4 linked regions of the Homo sapiens genome follow. The protein of the gene in region 1 interacts with the protein of each later gene in a biochemical or structural test. Each region holds a gene or a part of one and is shown on either strand. Other genes may lie near its edges. The genes, in order: NID1, PTPRF, FBLN1 and FGA.

What was found.
Region 2: the proteins of NID1 (region 1) and PTPRF form a complex in vitro, tested with the Homo sapiens proteins (one study listed by BioGRID).
Region 3: the proteins of NID1 (region 1) and FBLN1 form a complex in vitro, tested with the Homo sapiens proteins (3 studies listed by BioGRID).
Region 4: the proteins of NID1 (region 1) and FGA form a complex in vitro, tested with the Homo sapiens proteins (one study listed by BioGRID).

Annotation. Positions count from the first base shown.
Region 1 is NC_000001.11:236,041,076-236,048,119, forward strand, and holds part of NID1 (nidogen-1 precursor), read right to left. Parts: intron 4,609-7,044; coding exon 4,382-4,608; intron 1,218-4,381; coding exon 835-1,217; intron 1-834. UniProt on the Homo sapiens protein: Sulfated glycoprotein widely distributed in basement membranes and tightly associated with laminin. Also binds to collagen IV and perlecan. It probably has a role in cell-extracellular matrix interactions.
Region 2 is NC_000001.11:43,603,840-43,610,883, forward strand, and holds part of PTPRF (receptor-type tyrosine-protein phosphatase F isoform 1 precursor), read left to right. Parts: coding exon 1-350; intron 351-1,063; coding exon 1,064-1,161; intron 1,162-1,350; coding exon 1,351-1,604; intron 1,605-1,689; coding exon 1,690-1,783; intron 1,784-2,400; coding exon 2,401-2,619; intron 2,620-2,974; coding exon 2,975-3,129; intron 3,130-4,484; coding exon of another isoform or gene 4,485-4,496; intron 4,497-5,543; coding exon 5,544-5,659; intron 5,660-7,044. UniProt on the Homo sapiens protein: Possible cell adhesion receptor. It possesses an intrinsic protein tyrosine phosphatase activity (PTPase) and dephosphorylates EPHA2 regulating its activity.
Region 3 is NC_000022.11:45,596,850-45,601,646, reverse strand, and holds the end of FBLN1 (fibulin-1 isoform D precursor), read right to left. Parts: intron 1,341-4,797; coding exon 1,201-1,340; 3' UTR 512-1,200; downstream 1-511. UniProt on the Homo sapiens protein: Incorporated into fibronectin-containing matrix fibers. May play a role in cell adhesion and migration along protein fibers within the extracellular matrix (ECM).
Region 4 is NC_000004.12:154,584,774-154,587,785, forward strand, and holds the end of FGA (fibrinogen alpha chain isoform alpha precursor), read right to left. Parts: intron 2,885-3,012; coding exon 2,739-2,884; intron 2,146-2,738; coding exon 721-2,145; 3' UTR 502-720; downstream 1-501. UniProt on the Homo sapiens protein: Cleaved by the protease thrombin to yield monomers which, together with fibrinogen beta (FGB) and fibrinogen gamma (FGG), polymerize to form an insoluble fibrin matrix. Fibrin has a major function in hemostasis as one of the primary components of blood clots.

The sequences.
Region 1 (7,044 bases):
TTTTTCTTTTCGAGGCAGAGACTCACTCTGTTGCCAGGCTGGAGTGCAGTGGCATGATCTCGGCTCACTGCAACCTCTGCCTCCCAGGTTCAAGCAATCCTCCTGCCTCAGCCTCCCAAGTAGCTAGGACTACAGGCGTGTGTCACCACGCCCAGCTAATTTTTGTATTTTTAGTAGAGATGGGGTTTCACCATGTTGGCCAGGATGGTCTCAATCTCTTGAGCTTGTGATCCACCTGCCTCGGCCTCCCAAAGTGCTGGGATTACAGGTGTGAGCCACCACCCCCGACCCTATTTTTTTTTAAAGAGTATCTACTTTGATATATATATATTTTTTAATCTTCACAAACCAACTCTGAAACTGACGGGACCTGGGAAGAAAAATAATCAACAATTCTAATTCCAAAACCAAGAGGAAATAAATGTCAAAGATAAGCTTCATAGACAGCCAAAAGAACTTCTAAAATGTTTTTTCAGGTGGATGAATACATTTCTGATCTGAGAAATCACAAGAAAATCTGACTTTCAAAACAATTCTAACGGACGTTTTCTCTTTAAAACAGACAGAACGGAATACTAGGAAACTTGAAAGAAGACACACTCAACAGTCTCCAAAACCATGGTCCTAATCCCAAAAGATCACTGAGCATCTCTGAAGCCACTGGGCATATAACACCAAGGCTCCACGGCTGTGAGAGTTCAGCCTCTACTTTCCCAAGCTCTTATCTTTACAAACCACCATGTAATGCTCACAACTGACATCTCCCCAGCAGTACGCCTGTCTGGAAGCCCACACATCCAAGATCGTTACCAACTGCAACTTAAATGGTCTTACCAACTCCTGTTTCCTCAACTTCATCCACATCTATGACCTGAGGGTGCTGCTGGTGAAAAGTCTCCACTGCCAACTGGAAAGACCTGGTTCTCTCTGTGGGAGGTCCAAGGGGCCTTTCGGTAGCTGCCCGGCGCGGGGAGAGGACGCTGGGCACACTGTATGTGTCAGCACCTCCCCTTCTCAGAGCCTTGTAGGAGAAGGGCGTGGTGCCCACATCCTCCAGGCCCAGACGAGTGGTCGCCAGGTCATAATCTTCATCCTCATCATCATACTCTGCCCCATCTTCAGTTCCGAGGATCACGTCTGCAGGCACCACGCCATTGGTGGTGGCTGGACTCCCAATCTCAAACACCCAGACACCCTGCTGCCCAGAGTTACTACTCCTAGGAGGAAGGACAGGCTTCTTAGAAACAGGCCAGCAACCCACCAACAGCCACCACTACCCAAGCAGAGGGAGCCCTGAGGATCTGTGTTGGTCTGCAAGCCATCACCTGCAGCTAGGACTGGAGAGTGGAAGGGCACTGGCCGTCATGTCTGGGCGTCATGTGGCTGAGGCAGTCTAGGGCTGTCTGGTGAGACTGTGTCCAAATGGGCACAATACTAGCACAAGCTCAGTCCCAGCCATTCCAGAAGTGTGCTCCAGGGACACTATCAGGACTTAAAATTCAACTTGCTCATCCTAATTGCTGGTTACATGCTCTACCTTATGAGCTAAGGTGGCTCATAGGACTGACAGTGGCTTTAGGACTGAAGTCATTCATGCTCTCCACTATCTCTTTCCATGACATGGTATGATACAATTGAAAATACATGTTTGGTCTCTGTCCTCACATTCTGAAACAAGAGCTCCTACAGCCTTTGGAATTTCTGAAGTGATAAGAGTGTCTTTTGTAGGCTAATGAGTTGACTGATGGCTGGGAGCTCCTAGACAGTTTCAGGATGGGGGCTGGTGGCCAGAAAGACCAAGGCATGATTAGAAGGTTGGAATGTCCAGCTTTCCCCACTGCCTCCAGGGAGGGGAGATGGGCTGGAGATTGAGTCAATCACCAAGGATCAGTGATTTAATCAACTGTGCCTATGAAATAACACCACCATAAAAACCCTAAAATGATGGGGTTCAGAGAGCTTCTGGGTTGAACACATCAAGGTGCGGGAAGGCTGGTGTACTCAGAGACGGCATAGAAACCCTGCCCCCTTACCCATACCTTGTCCTATGCCTCTCTTCCATTTGGTTGTTCCAGAGTTGTATCCTTTAGAATGAACTGGTAATAGTGAAGCATTTTTCTGTGTTATGTGAGCCATTCTAGCAAATTATCAAATCTGAGGAGCATGCCATGGAAACCCTCCATTTATAGCTGGTTGGTCAGAAGTACAGGTGGAAACACAGGACTTGGGACTGGCATCTGAAGTGGGGGCAGTCCTGTGGGACTGAGCCCTTAACCTGTGGGGTCTGCAGTAACGCCAGTGCTAGAATTGAACTGAAGTGTAGGACACCCGGCTGGTGTGCAGAGAATTGGTTGGTGTGGGAAAAAAAACCCCACCCATTTGGTGTCAGAAGTGTGAGTGAAAACATTGCAGACGTGGTTTTTTAGAAATCCCAACTCCAGGGCCGGGCGCGGTGGCTCACACCTGTAATCCCAGCACTTTGGGGGGCTGAGGAGGGCAGATCATGAGGTCAGGAGATCGAGACCATCCTGGCTAACATGGTGAAACCCCGTCTCTACTAAAAATACAAAAAATTAGCTGGGCGTGGTGGTGGGCGCCTGTAGTCCCAGCTGCTCGGGACGCTGAAGCAGGAGAATGGCGTGAACCCGGGAGGCAGAGCTTGCAGTGAGCCAAGATCGTGCCACTGCACTCCAGCCTGGGCGACAGAGCAAGACTCCATCTCAAAACAACAACAAAAACAACAAAAAAAGAAATCCCAACTCCATTGGCTGTGAGATCTTGGACTAGTCTCAGTTTACCTTTGGTGCTTAAAGGATATGGTGAAAAGCAAATGAGATACAAAATCCAAAAGCATTTTATAACTATAAAATATAGTAGAATATCCCTAATCTCTACTTCTTCCTCCACCATTTTTACCATTCTTCTGTGTCTGTGATTGGAAGTGCTCCTATCAGAAATTACATGAAATAATTATATTATACGGTGGACAGAGGGGACATACATTACTCAGTGGAAAATACTGAGCAAAACAATGGGGTGGGGTGGGGATGATAAATCACAAAAGTCCTGCATAAATAGGATGTCTAATCAATTTGTCTGCCTGGGATTCAAGTAAAGACAGTGGTGTGTGGGAGCTTATATGGACTAGCTTGTGAGAGCTGGCTGTTAAAGTTTTAGGAATTTTGCAAGCCAGTTATTAAACACAGCCATTCTAAACAATTAAATTACATGAACTTCCAATTAAACAAGTTATATTTTTTAAAAGGAAAAAATATTCAAAACTCATCATATTCTAATCCTTTTGCTACTGTCCATGCTCTTGAAATTATATATATTAAACCTATTTTATCTTTATGGTGAGAATATATATAATGGTGCATGTTTTCTGAACTCTTCAATGAGTGACATGACGTTAATAACTTGAACTTGGCCATCGTAGGAGTATTTACATCACAGAAACAGGCAAACGCTATAAATCAGGTTCCTCTGCCCTCATAAAACCAGTTGTTAAGCATTTACCAGCACATCACTAAGTGAAGGGCAGAGGAATTCAAGCTAGATTTGAAGATATAAAATTAAAAGGTGGTTTTAGGGGATTCACTCTTGGTTTTTAAAGAATAATGGGAGAGGAAAGGTTTTAATCTTCAAAATCCAATTTGGGCTTTTCCCTCTTTTGTCAAATTCTACAACATAACCTGAGAGCACCATTTCTGTTGTAAGAATATTCCCCCTAGTCAATGTGAAGGAAAAGGTTTTCTCAGCCTTGAGATCAAAGGAGATAGGTTTGAATAACCCTTATTTCTAACAGTGTTTATAGACAAAATGGTAAAAACTGTCTTAAGGCCGGGCGCGGCACTTCATGCCTGTAATCCCAGCACTTTGGGAGGCTGAGGTGGGCAGATCACCCGAGGGCAGGAGTTCAAGACCAGCCTGGCCAACATGGTGAAACCCCGTCTCTACTAAAAATACAAGAATTAGCTGGGCATGGTGGCACACACCTGTAATCCCAGCTACTTGGGAAGCTGAGGCGAGAGAATCACTTGAACCTGGGAGGCAGAGGTTGCAGTGAGTCGAGATTGTGCCATTGCACTCCAGCCTTCCAGCTTGGGCAACAGAGTAAGGCTCTGTCTCAAAAAAAAAAAAAAAAAAAAAAAAAAGAACTATTTTAAATGAGGATGATATCTAAAAAATAGGATATCTGTTCATTCTAAAAATACATTTCCTTAAGTTCATCAGAAAAAGAGTATCTCATAATATAAAAACTATATGCAAAACTTAAATCCATAGGAACATTTTTAGGTAATGATCTATAATACACATTACATTATCCACATTAAAAAATATTAAGAGGAGAATCTACTGAAGAACAAAGAAAGCATACTTGGCCAAATTTTCAACTGATTCCCTGTCATTAGCAAATATGTTATAAGCTCCGTTGCTCTTCCATAAGAATCCCACTGAACCTTGACTGAATGCAACCACGGCAGGAACTTGGTTGTTTTCCTTCTTTGAGAATGTCGTATGGAACTGCAGACCATCCTCAGGATAAAGGAAAATGGCATAGGAGCTGGAATCAGAGGAGGCTAGAACAGCCTGGAACGTGTTTCTCTGTGAAGATGAGTTAAAATTCAGTTACTCGGAAAAATATCGATAGATTTTAAAATGTGTTATTCGCCAGACTATCTATAAAGCGTACAGTGCTATAGAGCGATGGCAATATTCTCACCTTATTCTAAAAGAAGGACTTTTGTAGCAAGAACCTAGGATTCTGGGATAGTTCCACTGAAATATCCCTAAGGCTATGTCAACATGACATTTTCTGATTAATTCATAAATATCTTCTGCATAACTGTGGCCCTAAGGTTAACCAAAAATTATACAGATGGTACCTCCAGATGGTGGCCTAAAATCTCACGCAGTTTAGGAAATTCTTACCCAAAGACTTTGTTTCCATGGCTGTTAACATATTCAACCGCATTCATCGTTTAACAAACATTTATTGAACCCAAGCACCGTACAGTAGAAAAAACAAAACAAAACATGAGATTTGGGAGAAAACAGACCTGGATCCAAATCTTTGCTCTACTCATTATTATGTGACTTGGGCGTGATACTTGAGTTCCCTAAGCCTCGATGTTTGCATCTGTAAAATGGAGATAAAACCACCTCCTTCACAGAAATGAGGAAGACTACATGAGGTCACGTATGAAAGAGCAGGCACATGCCGGGCGCGGTGGCTCATGCCTGTAATCCCAGCACTTTGGGAAGGCTGACATGTGAAGAAAACATTGCAAAACCTGAGGTTGGATTCTGTAATCGAAACATTTGCAAAGCGCTGCAGGAGCCGTAAGAGGAAGCGTCCCATGCCAGGAGCGGTGGGAGTGCATCCCATGCCAGGAGGCTGTGGTTGGTCAAGGCCTCACGGGAGGGCCCAGTCTGAATGAACAAGCAGGAGGAAGCTGCCACCTGTAGGGGGGTCAGGGAGAGGACGTCCCAAACAGAGAGGACAGCCTGTGCAAGATACTGCGGATAAAAAAAAAAGAGCAAGGGCAAGGTCAGGGAATTACATGTAATTTGGTATAGCGGCTGCAAAGGGTATGCGGAGGTGGAACAGATTAGGCCCAAGAGGCAAGCAAGGGATCCATACCAATGGGTTAGGCATTTATCACCCAAGTGAAAGGGAGGCAGCTGAGACACTTAACATTTAAGCTGTTTTCAAGTTTGGCACTCAGACAGATAACAGTTGGCAAGCAAAATGTGTCATGCAGGCCCCTAACAGACTTTCCCAAAGTGTGCTCTGTGGGATGTAATGCATCTTTTTTGGAGCGGGGGAAGGGAAGAGGTATGGTCACAGGTTTGGAGACTGCTCAGTTAAACAATATTCGGCAAGGCTGGAATGGTGGCTCACGCCCTTAGTCCCAGCTACCTGGGAGGCTGAGGCAGGAGAATCACTTGAACCCAGGAGGTGGAGATTGCAATGAGCCAAGATGGCACCACTGCACTCCAGCCTGGGTGACAGAGCAAGACTCTGTCTCAAAACAAAAACAAAAACAAAAACAAAAAAAGTAGTATTAGGCAAGTTGCAAGTTTCCTGACTGCAGGACTTTTCAGAGTGAACAGGGTGAATCACCAAGAGGGAGATATAGTTTTAGCATTTCCCAAACTAGAAGGCCTTTTCCTCAAGGTGTATCTTGTAGGACTGGTGTTTTGTGGTACACACTTTAGGAACCACCAGCCTGAAATACCTCCCATTTATATGAAGTGCTTTGGGACCCTTCAAGTTTCTTTCTTCCTCATTTTCCTATAAAGGTGAAGTTATGGTAGAGAGAAATTATTTTTCCAAGGGAAAATCGAGGCCTGTCCTAAAAAGTCACTTCAGGTCTAACAACGAGTTCCTGACCTACTCAAAGACCCTGCTTCCTTCAAGGGCAAGTCCGTGCTCTACAGCCTGGTCCTTCCAGCCGTCCCTGATGACTGCGCCCACGGAGAGGCCAACCCTGGGTTATGACAATACTTGGGTTTTGAACCACTCACATGGTCCAAATGATTCTTGTCTCCCCAACTAGAGTCTGGGCTTTACCTTTCTATCTTTGCATCCCTCAGGAGTACTTTGTTATTTTAACCTATCGTTTCATATTAATAATTTCTCTAGTCAGAAACTATCCTTCCAGCCGGGCTCGGTGGCACACACCTGTAATCCCAGCACTTTGGGAGGCTGAGGTGGGTGGATCATTTGAGGTCAGCAGTTGGAGACCAGCCTGGCCAATGTGGTGAAACCCCATCTCTACTAAAAATACAAAAATTAGCCAGTGTGGTGGCCCATGCCTGTAATCCCAGCTACTCGGGAGGCTGAGGCACAATAATTGCTTGAACCTGGGAGGTGGAGGCTGCAGAGAGCTGAGATTGTGCCACTGTACTCCAGCCTGGGCAACAGAGCAAGACTCCATCTCAAAAAAAAAAAAAAAAAAAAAAAAAAGGCCGGGCATGGTGGCTCACGCCTGTAATCCCAGCACTTTGGGAGGCTGAGAAGGGTGGATCACGAGA
Region 2 (7,044 bases), about 190 Mb from region 1:
CCGGGCTGGCTTGGGTGAGGAGTTCGAGAAGGAGATCAGGACCCCCGAGGACCTGCCCAGCGGCTTCCCCCAAAACCTGCATGTGACAGGACTGACCACGTCTACCACAGAACTGGCCTGGGACCCGCCAGTGCTGGCGGAGAGGAACGGGCGCATCATCAGCTACACCGTGGTGTTCCGAGACATCAACAGCCAACAGGAGCTGCAGAACATCACGACAGACACCCGCTTTACCCTTACTGGCCTCAAGCCAGACACCACTTACGACATCAAGGTCCGCGCATGGACCAGCAAAGGCTCTGGCCCACTCAGCCCCAGCATCCAGTCCCGGACCATGCCGGTGGAGCAAGGTGTGTGCTGTGGACATGGCATCCCTTCCCGAGTGTGGCTGCATCTGGGGGTCTCTGCTCTCCTTGAGCCACTGACCTCTGGCGACTGTGATCCACCAGCCTCTGGTGTGTGACCTCCAATCTCTCATGACTGTGACCACTAACCTCTAGTGAATGGGCACCACATTCTTGATGCCTGACCTCTGCTGTCCTTAACCTACTGACCTCTGCTGTATGACCTTCTGATCTCTTGTGACCTTGACCCACTGATCTCTTTTGACTGTGTCACTATTCTTGGGTGTGCAACCTCCTGATCTTTGGTGTGTGACACTAATCTCTTGGGGCCATGACCCACCGACCTCTAGTGAACATGCTCCACCACGCTCTGGTGTGTGGCCACATGCTTCTCATGACCGAAACCCACTGACCCTCTGATCACTCTGGCCTGGTGTCCATCGGCTCAAGCTTTTACACTCGCGTTTCTGGAGATTCTGACCCTGGTTGCTGTGGCATCCCCCGCCCTGTTTGGTGCTCACTGTGGAAGAGCTTGGGCTGGGAGTTCAACTGTGCCGTTTGAAGCTGGCTGGGAGTGGGGCGCTTGGTACTCTGCAGCCATCCTTCAACCCCCTGTTCCCCAACCAGTGTCTCATCCTGGCCATTCACCTTCCACCCTTCCAGCCCATTCACCCCACCTCATATACCCAGCAGAGCTGACTCTCTCTATGCCTTTGCAGTGTTTGCCAAGAACTTCCGGGTGGCGGCTGCAATGAAGACGTCTGTGCTGCTCAGCTGGGAGGTTCCCGACTCCTATAAGTCAGCTGTGCCCTTTAAGGTGAGTAAGGGCCACGGCCAGCTGAGCCTGGCACACACACAGGCCTGCTGGGTGCTGTCTTTCCAGTCCTAACCCATGTGCATCCGGCTGTGGAGCAGGAATGTGGTTGTGTATCCGTGCACTGTGCCTTGCAGCCCGTGGTAGGGAACCTCACCCAAAGGCATTGATTGCCCCTCCCGTCCCCCACAGATTCTGTACAATGGGCAGAGTGTGGAGGTGGACGGGCACTCGATGCGGAAGCTGATCGCAGACCTGCAGCCCAACACAGAGTACTCGTTTGTGCTGATGAACCGTGGCAGCAGCGCAGGGGGCCTGCAGCACCTGGTGTCCATCCGCACAGCCCCCGACCTCCTGCCTCACAAGCCGCTGCCTGCCTCTGCCTACATAGAGGACGGCCGCTTCGATCTCTCCATGCCCCATGTGCAAGACCCCTCGCTTGTCAGGTGTGCACACGAGGTATCGGGGGAGGCGGGGCAGGGCTGGAGGTAACCAGCAGTGACAGTCCTGATTCCTGCCCTGCCCACCCAGGTGGTTCTACATTGTTGTGGTGCCCATTGACCGTGTGGGCGGGAGCATGCTGACGCCAAGGTGGAGCACACCCGAGGAACTGGAGCTGGACGAGGTACCTGGGGAGGGGATGGGGACACTGACAGCCCCATTGCAGTGGTCAGCTGTGGCCTTCCTGCCCTGAGCACTGTCCCAGTGACTCTCAGATTCACTCCCCAAATTGAAATCTCTCTTCTGGCTGGCAGCCCGCCCCTCTCTGGAGAGAGGGACTCTGAGGAAACCATCTGGGAGTATTCACAGAACTCCCGGAGGGCTTACGAAGAATCCCTGGGGTGGGATGTCGTGGAGATGCCTCTGCAGGTCTAGAGAATGCCAAGCCCTGTAGACACTGCAGAGCCTCGCAGATCTAGAAGCTATGGAGGGCTTAGTGAGCCTTATAGCCAGGAGTCCCTGAATGTTTGAAATCCTTCAGTCCTTTCTCATAGCCAGTGTGGCAACAGCCTGGTTAGGGTGGGGCAGCTTACACACAGGGCTGCTTCTCATGGGCTGGTGGGGAGGAGTGGCTTCACGGTGTCTGTTACTCTGTAGGGGCAGTGGGTTGGGCAGGTGTGGGCTCTGACACGGAAGGTGAGCCTTGATCTCGGCCCAGGGAGCTGACATCCCAGGCCACAGCCTCAGGGCTGGCCGGCATGCTCCAAGGCCCCTCATGACCCCCATGCTCTGCTCTGCCAGCTTCTAGAAGCCATCGAGCAAGGCGGAGAGGAGCAGCGGCGGCGGCGGCGGCAGGCAGAACGTCTGAAGCCATATGTGGCTGCTCAACTGGATGTGCTCCCGGAGACCTTTACCTTGGGGGACAAGAAGAACTACCGGGGCTTCTACAACCGGCCCCTGTCTCCGGACTTGAGCTACCAGTGCTTTGTGCTTGCCTCCTTGAAGGAACCCATGGACCAGGTCTGCCTGAGCCGGCTTGGCTGTCAGCACCCTGATTCCCTGGGCCTGGCCTGAGACGATGCCAGTCTCAAACACCACAAGACCCCAGGTCTTTATCAGTTTGGGGGCTTCGAGATCCTGGGGCAGCACTAAAGACCCAAGATCTGTCCCGGGGATCCTAAGACGCGGCCCTGGGACCCAGAGGCCAGACCTAATGTGGCTCCAGGGACCCAGTCCTGCCAGGTCCACCTTGTAGGGTCTGGGAGACCAGGCCCAGGGTAACCCAGACCCAGAGCCCTTTCTCCAGGATTAATAGGCAGAGGGTGGGGGGTTCTCACGCTGAGCTCACAGCCTGCTGTTCTCCACCGGGCCACAGAAGCGCTATGCCTCCAGCCCCTACTCGGATGAGATCGTGGTCCAGGTGACACCAGCCCAGCAGCAGGAGGAGCCGGAGATGCTGTGGGTGACGGGTCCCGTGCTGGCAGTCATCCTCATCATCCTCATTGTCATCGCCATCCTCTTGTTCAAAAGGTGAGCACTGCCCTCAGAGCTCCGGGAACGGCCACCTGCCCCTCGCCTTTCAGGCCCTCTCCGGGTGTGGTGCCTGTGGAGAGCGTGCAGCCTTGCATCCTGGACCCTGAGCCTCAGGCTCAGCAGGAAGGCAGGAAGGGCAGGAGCAGTGTGTGTGCCTACCTGTGTCTGCAGGCCTGCATCTGTCAGGTGAGGGAGCCTCTGCAGCAGCCTGGGCGTGAGGAACTAAAGCCTCAGAGGGTTGTCTCATGTGCATCCCTGGCACGTCTGTCTGTCTCTGTGTTTCTGTGGATAAGAGTGCGTCTGTCTCCTCTTCAGTTTTAAGACACCGCCATCTCCTGAGCTCCTACCTCGAGTCCTTTCCTTCTGCCACCATTCCTGGATGATTCCCCAGCCCTACTCTCCTGCTTAGGCCTAGAGAGGTCGAGCTGGAGGCCCACAGGCCATGGATGCTCACTAACAGACATGACTGATGGCCTGCTGTGCCCGTGCCATCCGCAGCGGCCTCAGCCTCAGTGTGTCTTTCCCACTCAGTTCTCTATCGGCAGTGGCCACCACCTGCCCTAGGAGTCTCCCTTCCTATCCGTGCACCTTCCAGCCTGAAAGGGATTTCCAAAGATTTAACTTTGTCACTCTCAGTTTAAAACCTTTTGATGGCTGCCCACGTAAAGCCCACCCTCTTTAGCCTGACAGCCAAACACCTGGCTAATCTGACCCCTGCCACACTCCTGACATTGCGACACTGAACTCATTCAGTGTTCAGGCCCACACAGGGTGTGCCCTCTGCGGATCTCCCTCCCCCTGCCCACTTGGCAACAGCAATCTCATCGTTCAGGACTCAAGTCCATGCTCTGGTGCCTGCAAGGCCTTGCCTGGCCCCTACCCCTTCCTTGCACAGCTGTCCCCTGTGATGCTCCACTGCAAACGCAGCTGGGCCTGTGTGCCAAGCCTTCAGCCCCCAGCACTGGGCTGAGCCCACAGGCATGTCAGTGAGCACCTGGCAGATGAAGATATGCTAGTCTGTGTGTCTGAGCACATCTCTGCACCATGCAGGAGAGCCTGTATCCTGTGTGCCTACCCTGGACCCACTGTTCCTTCCTAAAGAGTCCACTCCTTCCTCCCAGGGTGGATGGACCTGTGGGCGGGTCCCTAAGGAGTGTCCCACAGATGCACTCATCCTTCCCACTTCCACCTGCATTCTGGGTCTGTCCAGAGAGGTAGACCCCCTCCCTGTGAATGTCATGTGGGTGCCATATAAGGGGCCTGCAGGGTCCCCATGTCATTAGAGGGCTGAGTGCTTGGTGGAAACTGTGACCGTTCCTTTCTTCTGTCCTTGCTTGTCTTTCGGGACCTAGTAAACAAGAAAGGTAGGAGTTGTTCCTTCTCTCTTCACACACCTCCCCCTCTACTTCTAATCCTTGGGCCAGCAGGGAGGGATGACGCTTTGACCAGAAGTCCCCTGGCCTATGGCTTTAAGCAGCAAACTGTCCAGTCAGCTCAGCAGGCTCCCTGGTTCAGGACTGAGTCCTCATTGGTGTGAGGAGGCAGTTTCTGTCTCACTCTTGCCAGTTCAACTCTGCAGAGGATGCTTCTTCTCTGGGGCACATACATAATACAGACTGCATTGCTTTCCCTGAGCGTACAGAGCTCACCAGAACCATCACCCGGCTCCCAGTTCTCTGAGAAGTTGCCTAAGTGCTGCGAGAGACAGTCTCGCACAGAGCAAAGAGCAGTCACTGTGTGGAACAGCAGAGAGGCATGTCCTTGTACCCACCTGAGCACACTCACTCAAATTCTTCTTTCCGAAGCACATGCGTCTGCAGACCACAAGTAGCCTCTGGCTATTTGTTGGCAGCTGAATCCTATGGTCTGTCTCTGACCCTGTCCTTGTAGATGGGAAAACTGAGGCCAGTGAGAGAGGACTCTGCCCAGCTAGGGTGACGCCTTTCCCGTCCCTCCCCTGCTGCCCTGGGCATTTACCCTGATACTCTGAGGGCCAAAAAGCTGGGGCCCTGTCTCCTGTGCTGTTTGTGTATTTTATGTGTCATTTGCATGTTTGTTCCCGGTGGTTCCTGCTACTCAGCTGGGTGGCCTTGGAGATAGCAGTCACTGTCCTGCAGTGACCTGCCTTCTATCCAAAGGAGCTGCTCGCCCCTGCAACCCCTTCCTCCCTGCTGCACTGCCCCTCTGCTCACGCCACACTCCTGCTCTCCCTACCCCCTCCCTGCCCTGTGTTCTCTCATGTCAAGGCTGTTCTGGCCCTGGCTCCTCCGCGCTCAGAGATCCTGGGAAGAGGTGGGGCAGTAGGAGGACAGAGCCGTGGACATGGGGGCTCCTTGGCAGCCAGCCATGCCATGTGTCACTGTCTCAGCCTGGACCTCAGGTTCTCACCAGCCTCCCTTCTGTCTCTCTAGGAAAAGGACCCACTCTCCGTCCTCTAAGGATGAGCAGTCGATCGGACTGAAGGACTCCTTGCTGGCCCACTCCTCTGACCCTGTGGAGATGCGGAGGCTCAACTACCAGACCCCAGGTAGGGCACTCCTATGGCCTGTGTGCCCCCAGCCCAGACCTAGCAGGCCTGTGGGTCTGTTCTGCAGGTCTCAGGGTCGCCACTGAAGTTCCTGGGCCGCATGCACTTGTTCCTGCTCCTTTTCTTCCTTTCTGCCCTTCTCCCTGTGCTCATCCACTTTGGTTGGAATGACTGGGGAGCCCCCATATCCTGCAGCTGGACAGGTGCCCCAGGCCAGGACCCTCTTAGGTGGCAAAGCCACTTAGCCACTGCCTTGTCTTCAGTCAAGGCCTCTGAATATGGGCTGAGGACCTCCCAGAGCCCACGTCTCTGCCACAGGGTGGCCAGTGTCTGGCGCACGCTCTGACGCCTCCACATGAAAGAGGGGCATGTTAGCAGTGGGAGATGCCTCACCAGACATCTGTGGGGAGATGAAGTGCCTGCACCTGAGCCTTCCTGGAGGCCGACCCCAGGTTTACCATACCACGTACCTGCCCCTTCTCCTAGCCACTCTCATGGGGCTGTCCACCTCTTCCTTCTACCTGAAATGTTACTCCTCCCAACACCCAGCAGACACAGCTCAGACCTCTCCTCTTGCCCACACCCCCACAGGGTTAGGTGTCTCTTCTTGGCTCCAGGAACCTCCCTCCTTCTTCCTTTTGACGCCTCTCACAGTGAGCTGGGATTACCTCAGTGACAGTCTCTGAGCTCTGTGGTGCCAGGAACTGTGTCTTGTCATCCCCCATCCCTTGTATTCAGCGCACGATGGGTTCTTGTTGAATGCCTGTGAAATGAACACACAGACAAATGAAGGAATGAGTGAACTAATGCATACACACAGGGTTTGTGTATGTATGAGCTGGTTATTCTGCATGTCAAATTACCCCAAAACTTAGTGGCTTAAAACAACAATAATTATGTATTATCTGTCACAGTTTTTGTGAGGCAGGAATTCAGACAGGGGCACAGCAGGAACAGCTTGTCTTTATTCCAGAAAGTCTGGGCCCTCAGCCGGAAGACTTGAAGGCTGGGAGCTAGAGTCATTTAAAGCAGGGGTTGGCAGACTATGGCCCGTGGCCAAGTACAGCCCACCACCTGTTTTTGTAAATAAATTTTTACTGGCTGGGCGTGGTGGCTCATGCCTGTGATCCCAGCACTTTGGGAGGCTGAGCCGGGTGGATCACCTGAGGTCAGGAGTTCGAGACCAGCTAATGAAATCCCATCTCTACTAAAAGTACAAAAATTAGCCAGGTGTGTGGCCCCTGTCATCCCAGCTACTCAGGAGGCTGAGGCAGGAGAATCACTTGAACCCAGGAGGTAGAGGTTGCGTGAGCCAAGATCGTACCATCGCATTCCAGCCTGGGTGACAAGAGCAAAACCCCATCTCAAAAATAAACAAATAAATA
Region 3 (4,797 bases), on another chromosome or scaffold:
CTCTCTCTGAGCCCAGTTTGTCCATCTCAAGATTGTGTGTGATCATACCCACCACACTGGGCCACCAGGAGGAATGAGCGAAGCACCTCATGTCAAATGCCTGGCCCAGGCCTGTGTCTGGCAGGGACTCATGGCTGCGGAAGGGTCATTATTTGCCCCCAGGGATTTCTAGAGAGGATCAGGATGCCACGAGGGATGCTATTGGAAGCAAGTCACACAGAAGCCAGAGCCCTGGGCTTTCCTAGCAGCACTGGACATGGGGCAGGGAACAAACCCGAGCCACACTTCTCAGAGGGTGGGCATGGCATTGAAAACGACGTGTGTAGGAAGCTTTTCCAATACACAAGCTGGGCCCCGCCCCAGAACCTTGAGGGGCAGGAGGAGCACTGAGACAACCTTGGGTGGGGTGAGGCAGGGGGACGGCGGGGGGAGATTTCCAGTCCCTTAGCTGGCGGAAGACTCCTGAGCTGGCAGAGAGCCCTCTTCTTGAAAGACTCTCATGCACAGGCCATCAGGAGGATCACAAAGTTGTTTATTTTCCCACCTATAAGAAAAGATGGATGATGCAGAGTGCCGAGAAATCCCAGCCATTCCCCTGGTGAACATACTGGAGGCCCACACGAGCCTAACAGGCTGTGTCTTTACCAAGGGATTTTCCTCTATTTCAACAGAACTGCAATTTCCCTTCCAAGTGCTCCCCGAGGCATTCTGTCATGCTGCTTCTGGGGATAATTTATCATCCACGTCTGTGCTATTCTACAGCAGCCATGTCCTTAGAACATAGAAAATCTGATTGGCCAAAAAAAAAAAAAAAGTGCCAAAATGTCAAATTTCATACAATCAGGGCAAGAACTGGTCTTCTTTTGGCATTTGGACTGGCTGCCCCCTAAAAAATGTCTTTCTTTCCTTGGCCCTTAGCAAGGCCCAGCCAGAGGCAGAGAAAGGGGGTGACACTTAGCCTTCGCATTAAAAAATGAGCAAGGTTTTCAACCAAACAGTTGAGCAACTGGGCTCATTTTTTAAACACCGAAAATACATCAGATGGACTTATTCATCTGGCTCAGCTTAATACATGTTGGCCTAATGCTACAAATACCTAACATTAAAAAAGTCTGAGGGTATAAACAAGTACAGACCACAGTCACTGGCAGCAATGATTTGGCCTGGAGGTGCACCTGCGGCTGTGCGGCAGACCAGCCCTCAGAACCAGTACTCAGAGACGAAGATGTGGACGTTGACAACATTTCGGTGGGAGACCACGCCCCCGACCACATAGTTCATCTCCAGCTTCAGGACGGCATGAAATGGGCCCACGATGGGCCGCACCTGGCGCACGACACCTGCGGAGAGAGCAGAAGGTGTGCTGGAAGTTAGAAGGGACTGCAGCAACGTAGAGATCTGGGAAATGGTTTCCCTTGAGGAGTTTCAGAGCTAGAAGGAGGCATAGACCTCATGGAGTCCCATCCTACGCCAGATGCTCGAGTCCCCTGAATAACATCTCCTTCCAAGTGGTCAGCTCAGGCTCTGCTCCTGCCTCCAGGGACTGGTGAAAGTGAACTCACTACTTGCTGGGACAGCCTTTCCATCATGCACTGCCCAACCTGGAGGAAAGTTGTGGGTGTGGGCTTTGAAACTGGATGGCTCTGGGATCAATGCCAGCTTCTGAGCCCAGGTTTTCTGCTCTACCACCATTTACCTGACAGGTGTTTTTTGTTTGTCTTTTGTTTTTGCGACGGAGTTTCACTCTTGTTGCCCAGGCTGGAGTGCAATGGCGTGATCTCGGCTCATTGCAACGTCCACCTCCCGGGTTCAAGCCATTCTCCTGCCTCAGCCTCCCGAGTAGCTGGGATTACAGGCATGTGCCACCATGCCTGGCTCATTTTATATTTTTAGTAGAGACGGGGTTTCTCCATGTTGATCAGGCTAGTCTCAAACTCCTGACCTCAGGTGATCCACCCGCTTTGGCCTCCCAAAGTGCTGGGATTACAGGCATGAGCGACCGTGACTGGCCTACCTGAAAGGTTTTAAGGGAGCCTAGAAGAGGGCCTGGCATGCAGTGGGTACCTGATAGACATCTTTCTCCCTCCTTCCAACCCCCTGTGCCCAGTTCTGACCCCTGAGAAGAAATGAAGCAGGCGTATCCTCTCCCCCAGAACATCTGAGGACTGCAATGGGCCCTGGATCCTCCTGCAAGCAGAGCACCCCCAGTTCTCCATGGGGCATGCCTCCGGACCCCTTGCTGTGCATGCCTCTGTGGAGGCTGACACCTGAGCTCACTGTTCAGTGTTTGTGATAACAGGGAAGCAAGAGGTGGCTGGAGTGACAGAGGATCAGAGCAGCAGTGGCGTCCCCAGGGCAGTCAAAAGGAGGATGGGTGGTGCAGGGAGACTGGTGTCAGTTCTGGGGAAACAGCTGGGGGTTGCAGGGAGCTCTGCCTGTACCAGGGTAGGGATCAGGCAAAGACCGTGGCCAGAGGACAGGGCACAGACAAAGCTCAGCCACGGCAGGGTAGAAGAGGAGCAACCCCAGGCATTCTGCAGATTCCAGGGGATCCGGGTTAGCGGGTAAGGGAGTGGGTGCCACAAGTCCTCCCCAGCCTGGGCCCGCCATCTCCATGGCCCCCGACCAGGCCCAGCTGGCACTGCCTTCCCTCTGCAGGGCACCCAAAGCCTCACAGAGACTCTCCCATACTCTGTACGCAGTGAGAGTATGGGACAGTCCTCACTGCACTGCGGAGAGGCTGAGGCCCTTTTGAGGCCTAGGTTCCCCAGCAACAAACGGTGCCATGCCCCTGTGCTCCTGCACTGCACGATTCAGATGCCCAGCATCTGCCAAGGCATCAGCTCCAGCTGTGCAGAGCGGCCTTCCCACCAGAGCAGAGCACTCAGCAGATCCCCTTCGCATGCACACATGTGCTAAACAGGTGCTGGGACAGTTCCCAGGGTTCCAGACATCATGAACAGGATGCTGGTTTCAAAGCTGGTGGGAGATCTAGGATGAAAGGTATGCACCACGCTCTGATGGAGGGTGTGCATTGTCCAGCGGGGGCGAGAATGGAGGTGGGGAGGGCTGGGGAGTCAGGACAGGTTTCTTGGAAGAGGCACCCCTCCTGCAGAGGAAGCTGCACAAGCCAAGGCTACAGGCTGCTCCCCAGTGTCTGCGGCCAAACAGGCACAGACCTATGGGTGCTGACATTTATGAATGAACCGCCAAGGTCCCTTCTCCGTTCCACATGTTCTGACAGTAGGATTTGTCTAAGGTGGTGTTGAGGGTGGGGATGTGGGGTAACTATCTAACAGGTGGCTCTCTGGTCGTACCATCGGCCAATTTCTATGGCAAATTTCCGGTACCACGTGGCAACACTGAAAGTGGACTTGTGGAGAGATGTGTACAAGCAGCTCTCCAGAGCTGGTGTGAGCAGTGTGAACGGTGTGAGCTGGCACTGAGACACCTGCTTGGATGCTCTGTGAAGAGCGAATATGGAGCCTGCAGCTTCACAACCACAAGTTGAGAAATAGCTACTGACTGTTTGCCACAAACGGCTGATTCCAGGCTGGATTCTGTGAACAGTTCCTCTGCAGGCTTAGGAAACGTGCACGGTGACAGCCTATCTCCACCTCTTGGTGCCCAGGACACAGCAAAGGCTCAGGGGAGAACTGAGGGGTCAGGAAGGCCTTCGGTACGAGTGGCTGGTTCCTGGTCAGGAACATCAAGTTCACGCTCAGAAAGAGAATCTGGGCACAACGTTCCCCCCTTTCGCTCTCTGGGCTTATGTTTCAAAAGTGAAAGGCCCAGCAGCTGGGGTGGAATTTCAGGCTGTTCCCTAAGCAAACATGGGCTTTAGCTCCGATGGAGAGATAAGCACAGGCTTCTGCAGGCTGTCAGCACCCTTGCTCTGCCTGCTACCTGGTGATGACATTGAAGCTTTGTCCTGCTTGAAAGCCCATGAACGTCTTCAGCTCCCGGCAAAAGACGTGCGCCTGTCACCACCCTGGGCTCGCCAGCAGAACCTGATGACGGGGTCACTCCTGCCTGCCCCTCCCTGGGCTGGGTCTGCCCACCAGGGTCAGTGTGGGCTTACAGGGCTGAACCTAACGTACCCCCGTGGGCCCCCTGTATGTCATATTTTTCTCTCCCCAGGCCCGAGGCCAACAATGGTGCCCCCGCTAGCCACAGTGACCTGCCAACTTTACTGGTACTAGGCGCAGAGACACTTCTTACCACCCTTCCTGGCATTCAGAGGTTTGGGGCTTGAAGGAGAAGGAGAGGCTGGGTGAGCCTGTGAATCACTGTAGGGAGGAATGGCAGGCACCTCCACAAGCAACAGTCAGATATGTCTTTGTTTCAGCTGGGTGCAGTGGCTCACGCTTGTAATCCCAGCACTTTGGGAGGCTTAGGCGGGCAGATCACAAGCCCATGAGTTCGAGACCAGCGTGGGCAACGTGGCAAAACCCTGTCTCTACAAAAAATACAAAAATTAGCCAGGCATGGTGGTGTGTGCTTATAGTCCCAGCTACTCAGGAGGCTGAGGTGGCAGAATTGTTTGAGCCCGGGAAGGTCAAGGTTGCAATGAGCCAAGATTGTGCCACTGCATTCTAGCCTGGGTGACAGAGCAAGATCCTGTCCCAAAAAAAAAGAGATCTATTTCTGTTATTATTATATTTCTGTATATTATATAGTTTCATATATGATATATAACTATTATACATATAAAACAATATATTAAAAATATATGTTATAAAGTATGTCAAATTTATATAACTGTATTTTAAATAGTTTAAAGTGTATTTTATAAAT
Region 4 (3,012 bases), on another chromosome or scaffold:
TGATATTGAAAATGCCACTTTGGGTACCTGAAGGATGTGTTTGGAGGACATCATCACAGTCTAAAAAAAAAATTAAGCTGGTTGGAAGAAGTTATTCTCATTTAACTTTACAAAGATAGGCACGGCTCAGATTAAATAAGGCAAATACTGTTTCTTTCCCTTCCTTTCTTTCTTCCTCCTTTCCTTCCCTCCATAGGGAAAGGATGCACTTACAGTGGGATAGAACTTATGCAAATAAGCGGTTATTTATACCTACAAATTGCAAAGGGGATTTTCCTCAAATGTATTTGGAATTTTACTTGCACAAACTAATAGCAAGTAACCAGTACAGGTAGCTAAGCATCACTTAATACTAACACAACTTGTATTTAGCCTGACCTAAATGTCAACTGAGACACATACTAAAAATGTGATTAATCAGTTGGGTGACAATTCTAATAGCACACACTTTGAATAGTGAAAGAATTTGACTAAATAAGCTCAAATAGAGTTTCAGAGGAATTCATTCATCCATTTAACATGTATTTATTGAGTCATGGCTCTGTACTGTTAGGCATTTGGGAATACAGAGATGAGACAGACAAAGGCCCTGCCCCCAAGGAACTTACAGTCTAGCACAAAAACAGACCAAAAAAGTGTAGTTTCAATGACGTGTAACAGAGAGTTAAGAAGGAAATGCAAGGGGCCATGGGAACACTGTGCAGAAATATTTAACTTAGTCTAGGGGGACAGGGAAGGCTTCCCCAAAGGAGAAGTGTGGATACCTCTGACAGGGCGAGATTTAGCATGGCCTCTCTTGGTGCTATGTGTTCCTTCATGATCGGCTTCACTTCCGGCCTCATCTGCCATTTTATAGCTCTTGCTTTCAAATGTGGAGTCTCCTCTGTTGTAACTCGTGCTACTAGTAAATTGTTTGCTGTAACTTGAAGATTTACCACGGGAAGGGAATTCAGCTATCCCAGGGTGATGAGAACTGGATTCCTTTGTATTTGTGAAGATGCCAGATTCTGAGCCCCTAGACTCAGTCTCACTGACAAACTCTCCTAACATAGGTGAGAAGAAACCTGGGAATGTTTTTCCAGTTGAGGCAGTGTCGAAGAAGGCAGCTTCATCAGGGTGCCTATGGCGGAACCCATCCAGAGTACCTATGCCAGACAATGTGCCTAAATCCATTGCCTCGGGACAGTCAGAACCATCTTCGGAGGTCACCACTTCTTTGGTAACTTCTTTGTGACCATCAGGACCAATAACAGTCTTAGTAACGGTTTTAGAGCATGAACGACGCGTGGTGGTTGTGCTACCAGAGGTGACCTTCTCTTTACCAGTCCTGAGCTCTTTATCTCCTTTAGAAGTGACCAGTTTTTCTGTGTGGTACTCTCTCCTTGTCCCTGGACTTACATTTCCTGACACCTCTTCAAATGTGCCCCAGTCTGGGTTGTTAGGCCTCGCGTTCCCAGAGCCTGGGCTATCTGGCCTAAAACTTCCAGATTCAGAGTGCCATTGTCCAGTACTACCAGATACAGAGCTCTCAGAGGTCCAGTGCCCAGCACTTCCGCGTTCAGAGCTGCCAGGATTCCAGGTTCCGGTACTACCAGGTCTAGGGCTCCCAGGGTTTTGGTTTCCAGTACTTCCAGTTCCAGAGCTCCCAGAGTTCCAGCTTCCAGTACTTCCAGGTCCAGAGCTCCCAGGTTTCCAGGTTGCAGTCCCTCCAGTCCCAGAGCTCCCAGGGTTTCGGTTTCCAGTACTTCCAGGTCCAGAGCTCCCAGAGTTCCAGCTTCCAGCACTGCTAGGGTTCCTGGGGCTTTCCGTCTCTGATCCGGTTCCATAAGAGGTGGAGCCTCCTCGAGTAATCTCATTTCCACCAGGTCTCTCTAACTCCATTCTCATCTGCGGCATGTCTGTTAATGCCTTCCACTCTGGGGGTACCTTCTGAAGCTGGCTCTTAAAATTTCCGGGAACCAAGTCTGGAACTGGTTTCATTTTTATCAGTGGTAAGTGTTGCCTATCTCTAGAGGGAAGTAAGTCTTTGGCAATGACCTGTTCAAGTTGCTTCTGCTGATCTTCATAGTCCTTCAGATCTACTTCACGAGCTAAAGCCCTACTGCATGACCCTCGACAAGATCGGATCTTAATATCAATGTCCACCTAGAGAGAGGGGAGAAAAATAAAGAGAAAATGTAGATACAAATACATAAACTACGTCTATTGAGTTCCTGGTAGTTAATTTTCCTTCTGGAAACTGGTTTCATTTTTTTTGACTCGGAGACCTACCACTTAATATTCTCTGTTTTCTGCCTATCGAGCACCCTCAGTGGAAGAGATGTTGGGTATTGCAGGGCTAGCCAGGATAAGCAATGGATGCTGTTTAATTCATCTTAGCCTCAGAATGGATCAAGAGTAAGGTGCTATTCCCTCTCAAAGGAAACGCTAATTAAATGATCCTTGGTGAAACTCAGGCTGAGGGCTCAGAGGTGTGGTGATGTAATGGGCTTTGGAATTAGACAGGGACTGAACATTTGCTTTTGAAATTTACTATCTATGTACCGTTGGAAAATTTACTTAATATCTCTGAATTTTTTTTCTTCAACTGTGGAGTGAGGAAAATAATACCTACTTTTAGGTAGATGATGGATATAACACTTTTCTCTGCATATAGTAGACACTCAGTGCATAACTATCGCCTTCCTTTTCCCTCTACTCAGAAACAAGGACATCTGGGACCACAGCCACATACTTACCTCCAGTCGTTTCATATCAACCAACTGAGCTCTAACATTTTTCTGCAGAAGCTGGATATGCTGTACTTTTTCTATGACTTTGCGCTTCAGGACTTCAATTCTGCTTCTCAGATCCTCTGACACTCGGTTGTAGGTATTATCACGGTCTGAAATCGAAAATATGGTTATTGAAGTAGCTGCTGAGTGATTTGTCTGTAATTGCCAGCAAAAAAGAAAGGAAGAAAGGAAGGAAGGAGAAAGAAAGAAAGAAAGAAAGAAAGAAAGAAAGAAAGAA